Linked DNA regions of Homo sapiens: region 1 is linked to region 2. Evidence: fine-mapped expression QTL. Tissue or cell type: whole blood. Region 2 holds a variant in brackets; the other region holds the start of a gene. All regions are shown on one strand. Distances are from middle to middle.

Evidence for each region.
Region 1: WASF1 starts here. The variant in region 2 is fine-mapped to the expression of WASF1 in whole blood (INTERVAL, PIP above 0.99).

Annotation. Positions count from the first base shown.
Region 1 is chr6:110,175,774-110,184,119 of GRCh38, reverse strand. WASF1 (WASP family member 1) reads left to right here and starts at 4,450. Exons shown (of 11, transcript NM_003931.3): 1 at 4,450-4,681; 2 at 5,378-5,522. CDC40 (cell division cycle 40) reads right to left here and starts at 3,693. Exons shown (of 15, transcript NM_015891.3): 1 at 3,487-3,693. The coding sequence starts at 3,675. RefSeq lists silencers at 4,421-4,530, 4,771-5,090.
Region 2 is chr6:110,145,143-110,153,488 of GRCh38, reverse strand. The region is part of intron 3 of WASF1 (WASP family member 1); the gene reads left to right. Among named protein-coding and RNA genes, the nearest start is that of WASF1, 30 kb to the left of the region's middle. The variant TTA/A (reference allele first, on the strand shown) is at 4,003.

The sequences.
Region 1 (8,346 bases), 31 kb before region 2:
AAAAGCTTTCAAGAGATAATACAAGAGAATATTTTCATGACTATGAGTTAAGGATTTCTCAAACAAGCAACAGGAACCCGATACATAAAGGAATAATTTGACAAGCACAGACTACATAAATAATTGTTTGTAAACAACAGGGAAAAGTGAGAAGACAAGTCACAAAAGAAAAAAAATTTGCAACACACACAATTGACAAAGGATAGTATCCAGAATATGTAAAGGTCTTCTAAAAATCAAAAGGAAATGACAACCCAATAGTTGCTTCCAAAGAAAAAAAAATTAAATCACCAATAACATATTAAAAGATACTCAACTGCAGGAAACAGCTCGGAAAAAACATAGATTAAAAACGCTGCAAAAATGTATTCTCTGCCAAAATGCTTGCTATTAATCATAATACAATTAGTCAACTACAGATGAATATATTTGCATGCTTCACATCTCCCTTGGTCATTTTCCAATTTTCCAATCATTTGCAATCATTATATTTACTATGTGTAAGTTTGTTTTCCCTTCATATAAACAAGTGTTGGTTCATAAACCAACAATGAGCAATGCCCTCTACGCTCTCATAGAACCCAGACCACTGGGTGGACTAGCCCCAGCTCTACCTCTAATGGACTTCTGGTACCTTACGCAGCCTTTCCTCCTGGGTTCCCTTATTTATTCGTGATTGCACTAAGTGAGCTCTAGACAAACACCCCCATCCCTGCCACTGCATGTCCAGCTCTAAAATTCTGATTCTTAATGTGCATACTTTTACAAGACTTTCTTTTTCATTCCATTCTCTTACCAAATATACTTCCCTAATCTTGTGTACTAGGCACTGGAGACACAAACGAATGGATACAACAGTCTCTGGACCCCAGGGTCTCACAGTCCAGAGGAAAGAAAAAGATGAACAAGTTACAGCAATGTGCTAAGTGCTATAGTTAAGATATGATAAAGGGGCTAAGGTAAAATAGGAGGAAACATATACACTGAGACTGAAGGACCACAGTGTTTGGAGTGGGGGAAGGAGGCACTAGGCAAGGGATTTCCAGGCAGAAAGACTAGCGTGGGCAAAATCTTCAGAGGAAGAAAGAAAATTCGGCTTTCAGGGCTTTGTAAAGAGTTCAGCATGGGAGAATAGCAGGACTCACATGCTACCAAAAAAACTTAGAAATCACCCATTGGACAACATGGTGTCTTTGGGCAGGGAAGTGATACGATGTAAGTGGAATTTACAAAGATCATTCTAAGTGCACTGTGGAGAAAAGAATGGGGTATAAAACTGGGAGACAAGAAAGGAAGAAGTAGAAAGATCAGTTAGAAGGCTACAACTGTCTGAAGAGAAATGATGAGAATCTGAACTAAACAGTGGCAGCAGAAGAGAGAGATTTGATGAATATCATTGAGTTAAAGTGGACAGAACCCACTACCCAAAAAGGCTGAAAGAGAAAGAAAAGAATAACTCCTGGGAGAAATAAGGAAGATATGAAGCCTGCACCAGTGAAAATAGCAAGGAAGGAGTTGATGTGAGAGAAATTAATGAAACAGCAATGTTAGAATCAATTGAATGACTAGCTTCAGGGGCTGAGGAAGAAGGAAGAGAAAAGGATACCTTCTTTGTTCTCGGCTTCAACTAGTGGGTGGATTGTGGGATGACAGATCAAAATAGGAAAAACAGAAGTGGATTTTGAGGGAAAGAAAATAATTTTTCGACACACTGAATTGGAGGTGGCTGAGCGCCAACCTGCAAAAGACAAATGTACAATTACTGTGGGAGATTTTTATATACCTCTCAAGATCGTAAGCTAGCAAGGAGGATAGAACTGGAAATAAAAGGATAGCAAGCATTTAATTAGTGTTCATTGTGTGTGGCACTGTTAAAAGGGCTTTACATCTTTTATGACAATTATTATAATTCTGTTAGATAGGTACTACTGTTATTCCTACTTTACAGATCAGCAAAAATTAGGTACAGAGCATTTAAGTAACTTATCCAAGGTCCCCAGGTGGGTAAGTGCTGGAGGCAGGATTTGAATTACAGTCTTAATTCCAGAGCCTGTGCTAACCATTTCACGGTGTTCACCTTGAGCTAGAAGCAGCACAGCCTGAGGTTGAAGGTATGGGAGAATATGTGGAATGCAAAGAGGACTAAGAGCAGAGTCCTGGGAAACACCAGTATTGAAAAGGGAGAGTAAAATAATTGGAACAGAATGCTGAGTAGAGCCCCATGGAAGCGAAACGGAGAGAAAGTTTCAAGAAAGAGGAACTAATGAACAGTGTCATTTGATGCAGACATTTAAGTCAGATGGCTGAACTTGACAACTGGAAGGCCTGGGACATCACTCACAGACAGTAGTTTCCCAAGAGGATAGGGCCAGACTGCATTGGGTTGAGGAGAAAATGAGACGAAGACAAAAAGAGAGCTCCAAAAAGCTGAGCTGTGAAAGGAGAAGACTCAGGAGGTTACTGGAGGGGCTTAAGTTTGGAAAGTTTTGTTTTGATAGGAAGTTAGGAGGATTCTAAGCATTCTTTCATGACAGATGTCCATTTTTAAAAAGTAAAATTCACATACAGCTTGTTAAAAACCTGTAAAACACTTCTTAAGTCATTAAACTAGACTTGGGGACATGATACAAAGGAATTTTTGGACACCGCCTCCCCTCTTCACATCTTGAGCTGATCACCTACCTCGGGCTCTACTGGGCCTACACTACCAATTGGTAGATGCTCTCATCAGGCTCCAGACACATCAGCTTTTCCTCAGTTCTTCAAACCCACTAGGCTCTTTGCGTTCTCAGGCTTGCCTGTCACCTCTGCCTGGAAACTCTTGCCTTATTAATCAGCTTCCTCCATTGAGATCATGCAGCTGTTTCTCAAATCCAAGGCCTTTTTCTCACTGTATTAACACACACAATCATAAAACATTTACTGCACTCTCACTAGTTGGCTCTGTGCTATATGCTTTATTTGTGTAATTTCACTCAATTTTCACACTCATCTTTTCATGTAGACAGATGTTTTGAAAATGATCTCCACTGTACAGGTGAGGAAAGAAAGGAGGCTGCATAACTTGTCCAAGTTCACACAAGTGGTGGTGCCAGGATTAGAACCTAGTTCTTCAAAAATAAGACAAATCGAGGCCACTGCTCACACAATACTCTAGTTTGGGAAGTCCTGATCTAATTTCACTTATGTTCCGAGATTACACCTGCACTTTCCAGGCTATGTCCCTAATCCACAAATTCAAATTTCATCCCCTCCTTCCACTTGCTTTCTGATGGCGGGAGGCAAGGGCAGAGAGCATCGGAGGGCTATTCCGAACTTCCAATTCTGCCTCTCCCGAGGATGCATGTGGGAAGGAGAAGAAATTCAAACGTTAGCAACTTATCTCTGAGCACTGAGAAAGAGGTAACCCGGTACCTAACAAGCGGCTGGCAGTTCTGGAGCTGAAGCCAACAATTCCCACACTGCATTAGTAGCAAAAGTGCTTACCTTAACTGCCACCTCCGGAGCCGAGTCCACTGCCACTGCTAGAGACGGCTTTGATGAAGGCGATTTAGTCAAGTGCATGAGGGAGTCGGCGGCTGGCAGCGGACACCGACTGCTCTCACTGTCCGAGTCCGATTCGGACCCTGAACCCGAACCATAGGAAGCGGCCAGAGCTGCAATCGCAGCCGACATGACGGCAACAAATCTTCTGCGGAGACCCTGCCAGGGCGGAAGAAGAAGAGGCTCCCAGGTCCTGACAGATTGCAATGGAACACATCATTAACTTTCTTTGCTAAGAAATAATGTCTTACATTTTGAAACAATAAGCTAATTATTATTAGAATAACTACTGTCGAGCTGAGAGCTTAAAAAAGTTTATCTAGGGAAAAAGGGAGAATTATAATAGTTTATAACATTTAGGACCTAGTTGACTAAAGAATATGAGTTCCAAAATACCTTGAGGCCTCGCGGTCCTGCACTCCCAGCGTGCAGCGCGGCAGGAAGCGCGAGAGGGCACAATGGGAAGTGTAGTTTGCAACGAGGGGGCGGAACGGGGGCGTGTCCCCCTTTGACCCCGCCCCCGAATGGATGTTCCATTCAATTGGCTATCATCTTCCCTCATTCCCTAGCCAAGCAGTGTTCTCTTCGTCCCCCTCCCCCAAACTGAGGATTGGGCAATACCACAGAACCTCAGGAAAGGGGGGAAGAGCGAGCTTCGGCCCCACTAATGGGGGAGTGGGCGGAGGCTGGATTTCCCACCTCGGCTGCACCTGGGCACTGGAGGCTGAAGAGGAAAGTGAGAATCTGAAGTTTTGAGACCTCTGACTGGCCAGGAATAGCTCCTGGGGCGGGGGGCAAGGATGGGACCATAGGCGGAAAGAGTCTCGCGGTCCCCCCTGCTTCTGGCGCGGGTCCCTGCGCCCGGTTGTGGAGCGTCTCGCGCGGGGAGGGGGCGGGGGGAACGGCAGCTCGCGGTGTTGTTCACTCGCGCGTCGAGCACACGGTGGGTCCGGCGGCGGGTTGGCGCCCCAGGCGGCGTTCCCTGTGGCCTGGCGCCTGGGCCGCTGCCCTGAGCGGGTTCCGCCCCAGAGCCCGACCCTCCTGGGGGCTCTAGGCGGAGTCCCGCGAGCCGAGGGGGACCGGCGACCGCTGCCGAAGCATGAAGAAGGGGTAAGGCGTGAGCCCCCAAGATTTCACGGTGAGCGCGAGTCCCTGAGGAATTGCTTTTTTCGGGGAGGGGGTGTTGGGAGAGGAACTCTTCCTTACTGGCCGGAGCAGACCGAGTGGTGTGTGGCCCGCAAAGGTGACGGGGATGGATGGGCGCGCCTTCCCCGCCCCGGCCCCCACCCCCATCCGCGGGTTTTCCGAGCGCCCACCGCCCACCCGCCAGCGGGGCTGGGTGCCGAGGGAGACGGCGGCGGGCGCGCCTGGGGCTTGGCTGCAGGGACCGCCCCGGGGCTGCTCTCGCTGGAGAGACTGTGGGTGTCACCTGAGGTGCCACCGCCCGGGCTTCCCTGCCCACCCGCGCCCGCGGTCCGCCCCGTGCCTCTTTCCGGGGGAGGCGGTAGCCCCGGGCGACAGAGAATCCCCTGCTCGCCCTACGTGCGCGAGGCTCGGTAAAGCGAGCTCGTGCGTTTGCGTGTTTGCTCCGCGAGTCGGTGTCTGAAAACATAACGGTAAAGCGAGTGCGGGCATCCTTTTCTTCGTTGGAAGGGGAGGCGAAGCGGTGCTGTCGCTTCTGGTGCCTGTTCATGGGGGCTGCCTTGGGCAGAGTTACGGAGCCGCTCACTCAGCGCTCATGTCGGCAGGACTCGCCCATTGTGCCACCCAGATAATTATTCAACTATGCAGCATCCATTGCACCTTTCCCATTTTTCTTTTCCCCTTGCTACAGCATGCCCCCTAGCTTCGGTACTCTGACACCTTCTCTTGCACTTGCGGATGATGAACTGGAATAACGATGAAAGAAAGCACATCCGATCTCAACATTCACGTCCTGCCCTATAACCGATTAATTAATTGATCCCCAGCTAGACTAGGTACTTAAATACGACTTACTCTAATCATTTCCTTTTCTATGTAATAAGATGTGCGGTGGATTCGACTTAAATTTTTTCTTTGGTGTTAGATTCACGATTAGCTAAGGTCTTTTTTCTGTTCACTAATTGATGTAATTGACTTATTGGTTATTCAATCCGTCTAATGTTCTTAAATTTAAATTTGCATGGTAGGTAACATTCATTTTTCTGATTGTTCATAGCATTATATCATAATTAGAAATGCAGTCTCAATTTGAACTCTCAGGAACAGTTTATCCTTTATGCTCTAAGTTTCTGTTAGGAAACATTTTTGTTTATATTGAATATTTGAATGAAGTATTTGATATAAAATTTCGGAAGTTTTGAATAAGAAAAGTTTTGTATTTGTTTTTCGGTAGCAGAATATGTCATTACTAATCGTTGCCTTCCATTGAATGGAAGGATTTAATATTTAAGATGAGGATTTTAACCATCATATCAGTCATTCCCTAATTTATCTGATTTTATTTTTTATTCACTTTTTTCTTTGCAATATCATGTATTTAATTACTTGTTTTAGAATCCAGTTTTTTTTTTTCTAACTTGAATCTACAAGTATGAGTAGGCTTCAGTTTTGCGTGATCTACCTGAAGGATGAAATTTTTTTTTTTTTGCAAATATAAGAAACCACTGTTGGTTACTTGATTTTTATGTTAAAAACTGTTTACATCTCATTATTTAAAAATAAATGATTCACTATAAAAAGTAAGTGTTGTATTTTTATAATTTTCCTTTTCCATCTTTCCTTGTTTAAGCTTGTTGCATTTACCCTTTTGATAAAAGAGAATCACATAAGCATTGCAGAGGCAGTTTTAAGGTATAGTAATTGTTTTATGGCACTTGGAAGTGGCGTACATATAATATAAGTTGATGGTGTAGGATTAGTTGCTTGGTTAGGAAATGACCTTGCAATTTACAAAATGGACACCTTTGTGCCTTGGTTTCCTTATATGTAAATGGAGATAATATTTAGTAGGTAGTGTGCATAAATTCAGGAAAGGTGTGTTTTTGTAGTCCTTTTAAAGAAAATTTAAATCTTTTAGCTGATGAATGATTAAAAAATTTCTGTGAAAAATACAATGAAAAAATGTCAGGATTTTCCATGGCATATTAGAATGGCTGATTAACATTGATTTTTGCTTTGGAGAGGTATGCCTCTGAACTGAAAAATGTTTCTCATCTATCAAGGGTTTTAAATAATTGCAGACATAAAGGTTATTACAGTTAATACCTACATATAGTTAAACATATAGATAAAATAGTTAATAGTAAACAAAAATTATGACTTGATAATAAGTAGAATATTGAATTAAGTTAGTGAAGAATAATATATTCGAAAAATATTAAGGCCCTTTTTGTTACAAATTTGCAGGTGTTACAATCCAAAATACATAGTTGTGATCATTTATAAGGTATGCTATAGAGTTACTTTATTACTCATGTTTGTAAATATTCATATATTCAGAGACAGTTTTAATATTGTATAAGACTATATTTAATTATACATTTTGCTTTATTTTAGGAATAACTTAAGATATCTTTTCCAAGTGTTGGATTTTCATTATCACAGTACATAGTACCTTGTGATTTCCTTATTGGACTACTATCAAAAGATTATGTTATTAGCACTTTTACCAAAACAGTGCTTTTGGTTACTTTGTGAGAAAACTTCATATAGATAAGACTATTAAAGTGTGTTTAAAGTTACTATTGTATGGTTTCGTTTTTGAGAATTTGTTTTATAATGTTTTCTTAAATGAATTAAAATTTAGCTGACACCGTCACTTGGGTAAATGCAGTAAAGTCGTGGTTTTTCTTAGTTCTTTGAGGAGAGAAACTGACCTGCAGCTTATTGTCATAAATCCAAAGTTGTTAGTATAGTGTTTAACAAATAGCAGGGGCTCAATTTTCTTTGTTGAACAAATAAAATGAATGGGTAAAGAATATCCATTGAATTAATATATTTAGTGAAACATTTTTAAAGATTTATCAAACATTATAATTAATGAAATGTATAACTTTATCTCAGGAGAAAAGAGAAAAATGAATTTCAAGGTTCTTTGAACTCCATTTACCTGCTCAGATATAATTCCATTACCTGTACACTTTTGAACTGGCACTAGATACTTAATAATGTATATGTTAGTAGTCTTTGATTTATGAAATATTAACAATTTTCTTCTTATAGCTCACTTTATGAAGATGTATGTTAACATATTTTTTGTTTTTCCTACACTAGATAGAAGTGTGTTTGATTCTTTGTGACTTACGTTTTCTAGTGAAATAGTAATAAAAAAGATATATGTAAATTAAATCCTATGCTGAATGCTTGAGTACCTAGTTGTTAAAAATAAATGACCCCTGAAGTGGAACTTTTTATAAAATTAAGAATCTTGTGTTTTAAGTTTATCACATTCAGCTTATAATTTTGAGTCTTTGTGAATTGGTAGTTCTAACTTACTACACAATTGATTACATTTTACAACTTGTAAAATGGTTTGGAACTTGAGTCTTATTTTCTCAGAAACAGTATACTTAGTGGTTAGAGTCACAGACAGCCCACTAAAGCCTATTTAAATAATAAAATACCTGAATTATAGGATTATGTTAATACTAAAGAAATTATAAAATTATGTTAATAATTAGCATAAGTATATTAAAATACCTATAATAATTTGTATGACAGTCTTTCTATGGGAAAAATAAGTTTCAGATGTACCCTGAAATGCTAGGATCTGTAACTCTTGTGTTAGACATGACAACATTATTAGGAACTTGTTCTCTT
Region 2 (8,346 bases):
ATTGATTTAATCTATGGCTTCTTTTAAATATTAGGGCTCTTATTAAATCAGTCTTAAACTTTCTTTTTGGACTCAAAATGTCAGTTTATCATTACATTGTACAGCTAGTTATTTTTATCTGCCATAAGGTCAAACTGGAACAGAAACCAGAACAGTAGATTTGGTTAAACTATTTTGCCATTATTATTTCCTGGCTCCCTATCTTCACCTAGAACTCTGTTGGTGGAAATGTAAAATGGTTAAACTGCTTTGGAAAGCAATTTTGTAGTTTTTTACAAAGCTAAACGTATAACCCAACCGTTCCACTGCTAAGTATTTACCCAAGAAAAACAAAACCATATCCACATAGAGACTTGTATAAAATGTTCATAAGTTACTTTATTTACAATAATCAAAACCGGAATATTACCCAAATTTCCATAAACAAGTGCAACAACATGGATGAATCTCAATCATCTCAATCATTAGGCTGAACAAAAGAAGGCAGACAATAGTTACTACTCTGTGAATCCATTTATATAGAATTCAACAAGCAAATTAATCTATGGTGACAGGTCAGTGGTCCTTGGAAACATGAGGGGAGGAAGGGATTACAAAGGAGAAAATTTGGGGGATGATTGTGATGATTTCACAGTATTAAGCCATGTTAAAACTGTTATAAACCTAATCAAATTTTACACCAGTATGTGCAATGCATTAGTTTTCTATCACTGCTTAACGAATTACCACACATTTAGCAGGCTAAAACATCTCTAGTAATTATCTTATAGTCCTATAAGTCAGAAGTATGAATAGGCTTGGCTGGATTCTCTGCATAGGGACTCAGAAGTCCAAAATCATGGCACTGACGGCTACATTTCTTTTCTGTTGGCTCTGGGGAACAATCACCTTGCAAGCTCATTCAAGTTCCTGGTAGTTGTACAATCTTAAGCTTCTCTTTTAATATCTAACAAGTACAGAGGCAGATTCTATTTTTCCTGATGGATATAATTCTTCATTGTATTGTGAATTGTTTCTGTTGGACTAAGACAAAATCAAAGTTTAGAAGAATTTTGATAATACAGACATATATGAAATAATAACAGAATCCCAACTTAAGGAGAGTAGTTAACCAGAGTAAGTTTTTGTTGGATTTAATATTATTGTTCCTGGTTTCCAGGTTCCTGTCTTCTCCCTGGGTGTCAGAAAAAGGTTTCTAGCTCCTAGAACTGCTTTCAGGTTCCCTCCATCTTTAAGCCAGCAGTAGCTGCCACATCTCCCTCATGCTTCAAATCTTTGCCTCCTTTCTCCGTTGTCAGCTGGAGAAAGCTCTACTTTCAAAGGGCTCATGTGATTAGGTTAAGCCCACCCATATAATCTCCCAATTTTAAGGTCAGCTGATAATTGACCATAATTATATCTTTAAAACCTCTCTTAACATGTAATATAATCATAGGAATAGTGCTAGGGACTGGATATCATGCGGCCATCTTAGAATTCTGCCTGCCACATGCTGTATGTTGTGCTTCACTTATACCTCAATAAAGTTTATATTTTTTTTCTAAAAAGGACAAAAATATATAATAATATGTGCATATAATGGGATGGTTGTGACACCCAAATAAGATGTAAGTTGATTTTTCTCACTGATTTGATTTGGCATAGCATTTCCATGTCCAGTGGGGAAATAGAACTAAGATAATAATATACTTACCACTTTTTCTATATTTTTTAATTTTCTTTCATCTATGATGTTAAGAAACAGTAGAAAGTTGAGGAAGTAGCTAAAAAGTAAACATAATAGAGGTGATTTTGTAAGTTTTTTAAGTTCACTCAAAATTGTGATTAATATTGTGATTTCATGTATGTCTACAAATATAAAGTAGTATTTAAAAATTACTATTACTTTATTAAACTTGTGCAAGAGATGAATGAATGTAAGTGTGCATTTTGTTGATCCTATTGTTTAGACCAATCTTGGAATTCTTGAGTTTATAGAATTCTTATATTACAGAATGTGGGAAATAATTGTTTTTATAACATGTAGGATGCTTTTATCTCCACCTTGTTTATTTCCTAGAAAGCATTCAATCAAGAGTAATACATTTAATATTTTATTATAGTTATTTGTGGCCAAAGATTTTGGAAATTAAAAATTTTAGTAGACTAGATGAAACTTTAGAATGAAATGTGGTTAGTTTTGCTTGGATCCTCAAATTGCTAGTGTGTGATACCAAGTGTTACCAAGAATGTCAAACAGCTGGAACTCTCGTAAGTTGCTGATGGGGGTATAAATTAGTTCAAGCACTTTGAAAACTATTTGACAATAGTTACTAAAGCTGTATGTATGTATGTGTATATATACCCTATGACCCAGTGGTTTACTCTCTCTAGTCATTCCACATTTACTCCATAATACACATTAAAATCTTTTTAAGATCAAATGTTTGTCCTCTTTTACTCTTTTATTTTGAGACAGAGTTTCACTCTTGATGCCCATGCTGGAATGCAATGGCGTGATCTCAGTTCACTGCAACCTTCGCCTCCTGGGTTCAAGTGATTCTCCTGCCTCAGCCTCCCAAGTAGCTGGGATTACAGGCTCGTGCCACCAAGCCTGGCTAATTTTTTGTATTTTTAGTAGAAACGGGGTTTTACCATGTTAGCCAGGCTGGTCTCGAACTCCTGATGTAAGGTGATCTGCCCGCCTCAGCCTCCCAAAGTGCTGTGATTACAGGCGTGAGCCACTGTGCCCAGCCCTTTTACTCCTTTTAAGGAACTTATTTGTTCCTTGTTGACCACCAAAGTTCAAAATCTTCAATTTGATTGCTTTTTTAAAAAATCTTTTATTCCTGCTTCTGTTTTCCTTTCAAGCAAGTGTCCTTATTTTTCCTCTCTTATTCTCAACTTGCTGTTTTACTTGTGATGGACATCAGTGCTGTCCAGTACAACTTTCTGCAGTGAAGGTAGTGTTCTGTAACTACCCTGTCCAGTATGGCTATTGAGCACTTGAAATGTGGCTAGTGTGACTGAGGAACTGATTTTTAAATTATTTACTTCGTTTTAATTTAGCAACTTGTGGCTAGCTGGTTAATTTATTGGACAGAACAGGTCTAAATTACTGTCTTCCTTTAACCTCTTTAGCTGGTTTTGATTTCATTCTCTCTACATGCATAATAATTTACCTTAGTCTACTTTAGACCTTAGCTATATGTTCATTTTTATTGTTTTACATTTTCTGTTACATATTTTTGCTTCCTGATTATTTTGTAAGCTGCTGGGTGGTGAAGCTATTTTACTTCTTTTCTATTCCTTTCACTTTCTATATTTTAACCATAATATGTAATCTGTAAATATTTATTGAAGGAAGTAGTCATCTGGGAATTGAGGAACATTATTTGGAGCTTCAAAATACCATTGAAAATCTTTTAGGGTATTGTGAAATTTGGGAGGCCAATTTGTCGAGAATACAAAATAGACTTAAATACAGTAACAAGGCCAGGTATAGTGGCTCACATCTCTAATAGGAGGCTGAGGCAGGAGGATTGCTTGAGCTCAGGAGTTCGACACCAGCCTGGGCAGGCAAGTTAGGGAGACCCCATCTCTACAAAATAATAATAGTAATAATAAACAGTAACAGATTAAGAGGGTGGGAGGGGGCTGAGGGATAAAAGACTACATACTGGGTACAGTGTACACTGCTCAGGTGATGGGTGTACCATAATCCCAGAAATCACTACCAAATCACTTATCCATGTACCCCAGAAACTTGAAATAAAAAATTAAAATATGTATACTGACAAAAATACAGTAGAGCAAGCAATAGATGCAAAATCTGAAGACAAAATCTAGTCTCATCTCTGCCACTGATTTTGTGAACTTAGAGAAGTTTCTTAGCTTTTTCAGGTAAGTTTGCTAATCTACAAAAATCGGATATGAATTATTTGGTGTTTTAATTTCTCTTCCAGGTTAAGATTCTTTTCTTTTTGTTTTTTTCTTTCTTTCTTTCCTTTTTTTTTTTTTTTT[TTA/A]AGACAGAGTCTTCCTCTTCCATGCTGTCTCCTACAGAAAGAAGATGACATTTCATATGAATTGTGGGGCATTGGAAGGTGAAATGCCAGGAATATTGTGTTTACCCTGGCTCTCTATTCTAGAAGTCAGGTGGACTGAAGTTACAGGGCATAGAGAATGGCAACGATGTAGGCGAACAAAGCAATTAAGTAAATCTAAGATTTATCCTTCAGGCTGAAATAGGTAAAGCGGGCATATGCCATACAGAATAATGAAATGTAAGGAAAAAAATGAAAGGGGGAAAAAAAGGAAAGCCACTAAATGTTCTCTTGCTTTCTCAATTAATTTTGGCTTTAAAACTCATCATTCTCCCACTACCCCTGTCCCAAATACCATTAAATTACTCTCTCCATGAGCCCAGTTACTTGGTTGTACATATTACTAGAGTTAGTCATAAGTCTTTTCCTAATCCCATAGACTTTGTGGATAGGGAGTCATATATTGATATAATTGATCTGCTTTAGAAATAATTTTCAGTTTTTGGCTGACTATAGAAAGTTTCTTAAGCCAAGAACTTGGGCTTCACCCCTTCTGGTGATCTAATTAATTATTAGCCTGTTTCCTTCTACCTCCAGAATATATCTTGAGTTGACATGCTTCTGTATCACTATCACATAGTCCAAGTGACTACCATCTCTGTCTCTGGACTACTTTATTCATCTTCTGTCTGGTCTACCTGCATTTATTCTGCCATTCCCCACTGCCCAAGTCTCCATAGAGCAATTAGAATGAATGGTCATTCCTGATCTTGGCACTCCTTTGCTTAAAACCCTTCAAGGGTTTTCCATTAGGACAACATAGAAAATCGTCAATATGACCTTCAAGGTCCTACCTAATCTGACCCCCTACTAACCCTAGAGTCTCTGATTGCACTTCACCCATGATGGCTTGCTCTCATTATTATTCCCTGTCCACCTTTCATTCTAAGAATGAAAACACACGCACAAGCTTCAGTTTCCCCAGCTTAGCTAGCTTAGCTAATAATCCTTTTGTTCTTAATTTAAATATTACTTCCTTAAGGAGACAGGTCCCCTTTATAGTGTCCCCTACTTTTACTCCATTATACTTATAAGCGTAATTAGATACTAGATTCTAGGAAATACACGGGGGATTGTTTGGTTTTGCTCACCCCTTTATCTTTAGCACTTGGCACACAGTACTTATTTCACTGATGTTCAGTAAATGGTTGGTTAGATGAATGAATGAATGGATGGCAGTGTGTCAGTACTGCCGTTTTTCATATAAAGTACAATGTATTTGATAGGTATATGTTTTTAGAAATACTTGCAATATGAAGAAGACAATCTTGTTTTTCAAGTAGCTTAGTTCTGCATTTGTGGTTTAGATGCCTCAAACTTCAATTTTAACATCTTTTAAACCACTAAAAATAAACTTGGTGGTTGGGTGCAGTGGCTCATGTCTATAATCCTAGCACTTTGAAAGGCTAAGGCAGGAGGATTACTTGAGCCCAGGAGTTTGAGGCCAGCCCGGGCAACATGGCAAAATCTCGTCTCTTCAAAAAATTTAAAAATTAGCCAGGTGTGCTGGCACACCCTGTAGTCCCAGCTACTTGGGAAACTGAGGGTGGGAGGACTGCTTTAGCCAGGGAGGTTGAAGCTGCAGTGAGTTGTGATCACGCCACTGCATTCCAGTTTGGGTGACAGAATAAGACCTTGTCTCAAAAGAAAAATAATACAGTAATAACCTTGGTGCAGTATTATGCTTGTATAATGATTTGTCAAGTAAGTTTCAGTAGTGGTTATATTAATTTAAAGGAAGTACATATTTTCTTTGAGAGTAACATGGAATCACATAAGAAAATACTACTATTTAGTGGATTTTATTACTAAGATGACTATATACAGTCTTCTTTCCACTCTATAGGTGTATAATACTATTGATTATTTCATTAGCATACAGTTTTCTTGACTCTGTCAGAAATGTCAGTGTTATGAATTGCTGAGTATGTAGCTTATTTCTTCATTTCCTTTTTGCTTTAGTTTGCTTAGCAATGTGTTATTTTCGACTTTAGTAGCCTATCAAAATTTAATGCTTTGCTATTGTGACTTCAGGTGACATAATTTTTTTTTTTTTTTTTTGAGACGGAGTCTCGCACTGTTGCCCAGGCTGGAGTGCAGTGGCATGATCTCGGCTCACTGCAAGCTCCGCCTCCCGGGTTCACGCCATTCTCCTGCCTCAGCCTCCCGAGTAGCTGGGACTACAGGCGCCCGCCACCACGCCCGGCTAATTTTTGTATTTTTAGTAGAGATGGGGTTTCACCGTGTTAGCCAGGATGGTCTCGATCTCCTGACCTCGTGATCCACCCTCCTCGGCCTCCCAAAGTGCTGGGATTACAGGTGTGAGCCACCGCGCCTGGCCTCAGGTGACATAATTATTTATATATTTATTTTTGGTAAAGATAGCACTGTTCTTAGGGCAGTTTTTTTTAAACCAAGAGCCAGAGTACCTCAGAGCAAATAACTGGAGATGTTCAGCATGATGACTAGTTCTTTAGTCCTGTGAGTACCTAAATTGGTTTTGTCATTTTCCTATGAATCTCCTTTAGAGATTCATGAGTAGTGAGTAGTTTTAAAGTTTGCTTCTCACAACAAAGAGGAAATTTATGATTTCTATATATTCCTGAGGTGGTTTTACACAAGAAACACAAGCTTCTATTTCACTGGTAAGTGAAGTTATTTTGAACTTCAGTTTTTTAGTTTACAATAATGAAACAGTTTGAGATAATGTGCATTATAGATTTAGGGAAAGGTAAATTATAAAATTCTGTTTCTGATACACTTCTAAACAATAACCTTGCAAATATATTTTATATTAAATCACCGTTTAAAGACCTGTGGTTTTGTATAATTGAAATATGGTTTTAAAGTTAGATATATATATTTTTAAATAAAAAATTAGATATATTTTTAATGTACAGTTCTTCATGCATTCTTATTTTAAATTTTTATATTTAATAATATCTGTCACAATTATAAAGTATTTTGTCATTGGCATGGGAGTTTATTAAGAAAATTATTTCTATGAAGAGCAAAGCTCTATTTAAACATTCTTATACTCAAATTATTTAACTTGCCAATTGTGCAAAATTAAGTGGCTTCTATTCTTAAGAAGGGAGGACATTTCTTAATAAGTATTTGCCCTACCCAAAATTCTTAACATATTTGAAATATTGAAATTGTTTTTATTAGAATACTTATTTTAACCTGTTCCTTTAGGTCACATAATGTAATCCTTTAGTTTGAATAAGTATTTAATACTGTATTGTGAAAAATGAAAATTATATTTTTTGTTATTATACTTTAAGTTTTAGGGTACATGTGCACAACGTGCAGGTTTGTTACATATGTATACGTGTGCCATGTTGGTGTGCTGTACCCATTAACTCGTCATTTAGCATTAGGTATATCTCCTAATGCCATCCCTCCCCCCTCCCCCCACCCCACAACAGTCCCCGGTGTGTGATGTTCCCCTTCCTGTGTCCATGTGTTCTCATTGTTCAATTCCCACCTATGAGTGAGAACATGCAGTGTTTGGTTTTTTTGTCCTTGTTATAGTTTGCTGAGAAATGATGGTTTCCAGCTTCATCCATGTCCCTGCAAAGGACATGAACTCATCATTTTTTATGACTGCATAATATTCCATGGTATATATGTGCCACATTTTCTTAATCCAGCATATAAACAGAACCAAAGACAAAAACCACATGATTATCTCAATAGATGCAGAAAAGGCCTTTGACAAAATTCAGCAACCCTTCATGCTAAAAACTCTCAATAAATTAGGTATTGATGGGATGTATCTCAGAATCATAAGAGCTACCTATGACAAACCCACAGCCAATATCATACTGAATGGACAAAAACTGGAAGCATTCCCTTTGAAAACTGGCACAAGACAGGGATGCCCTCTCTCACTACTCCTATTCAACATAGCGTTGGAAGTTCTGGCCAGGGCAATCAGGCAGGAGAAGGGAATAAAGGGCATTCAATTAGGAAAAGAGGAAGTCAAATTGTCCCTGTTTGCAGATGACATGATTGTATATCTAGAAAACCCCATTGTCTCAGCCCAAAATCTCCTTAAGCTGATAAGCAACTTCAGCAAATTCTCAGGATACAAAATCAATGTGCAAAAATCACAAGCATTCTTATACACCAATAACAGACAAACAGAGAGCCAAATCATGACTGAACTCCCATTCACAATTGCTTCAAAGAGAATAAAATACCTAGGAATCCAACTTGCAAGGGATGTGAAGGACCTCTTCAAGGAGAACTACAAACC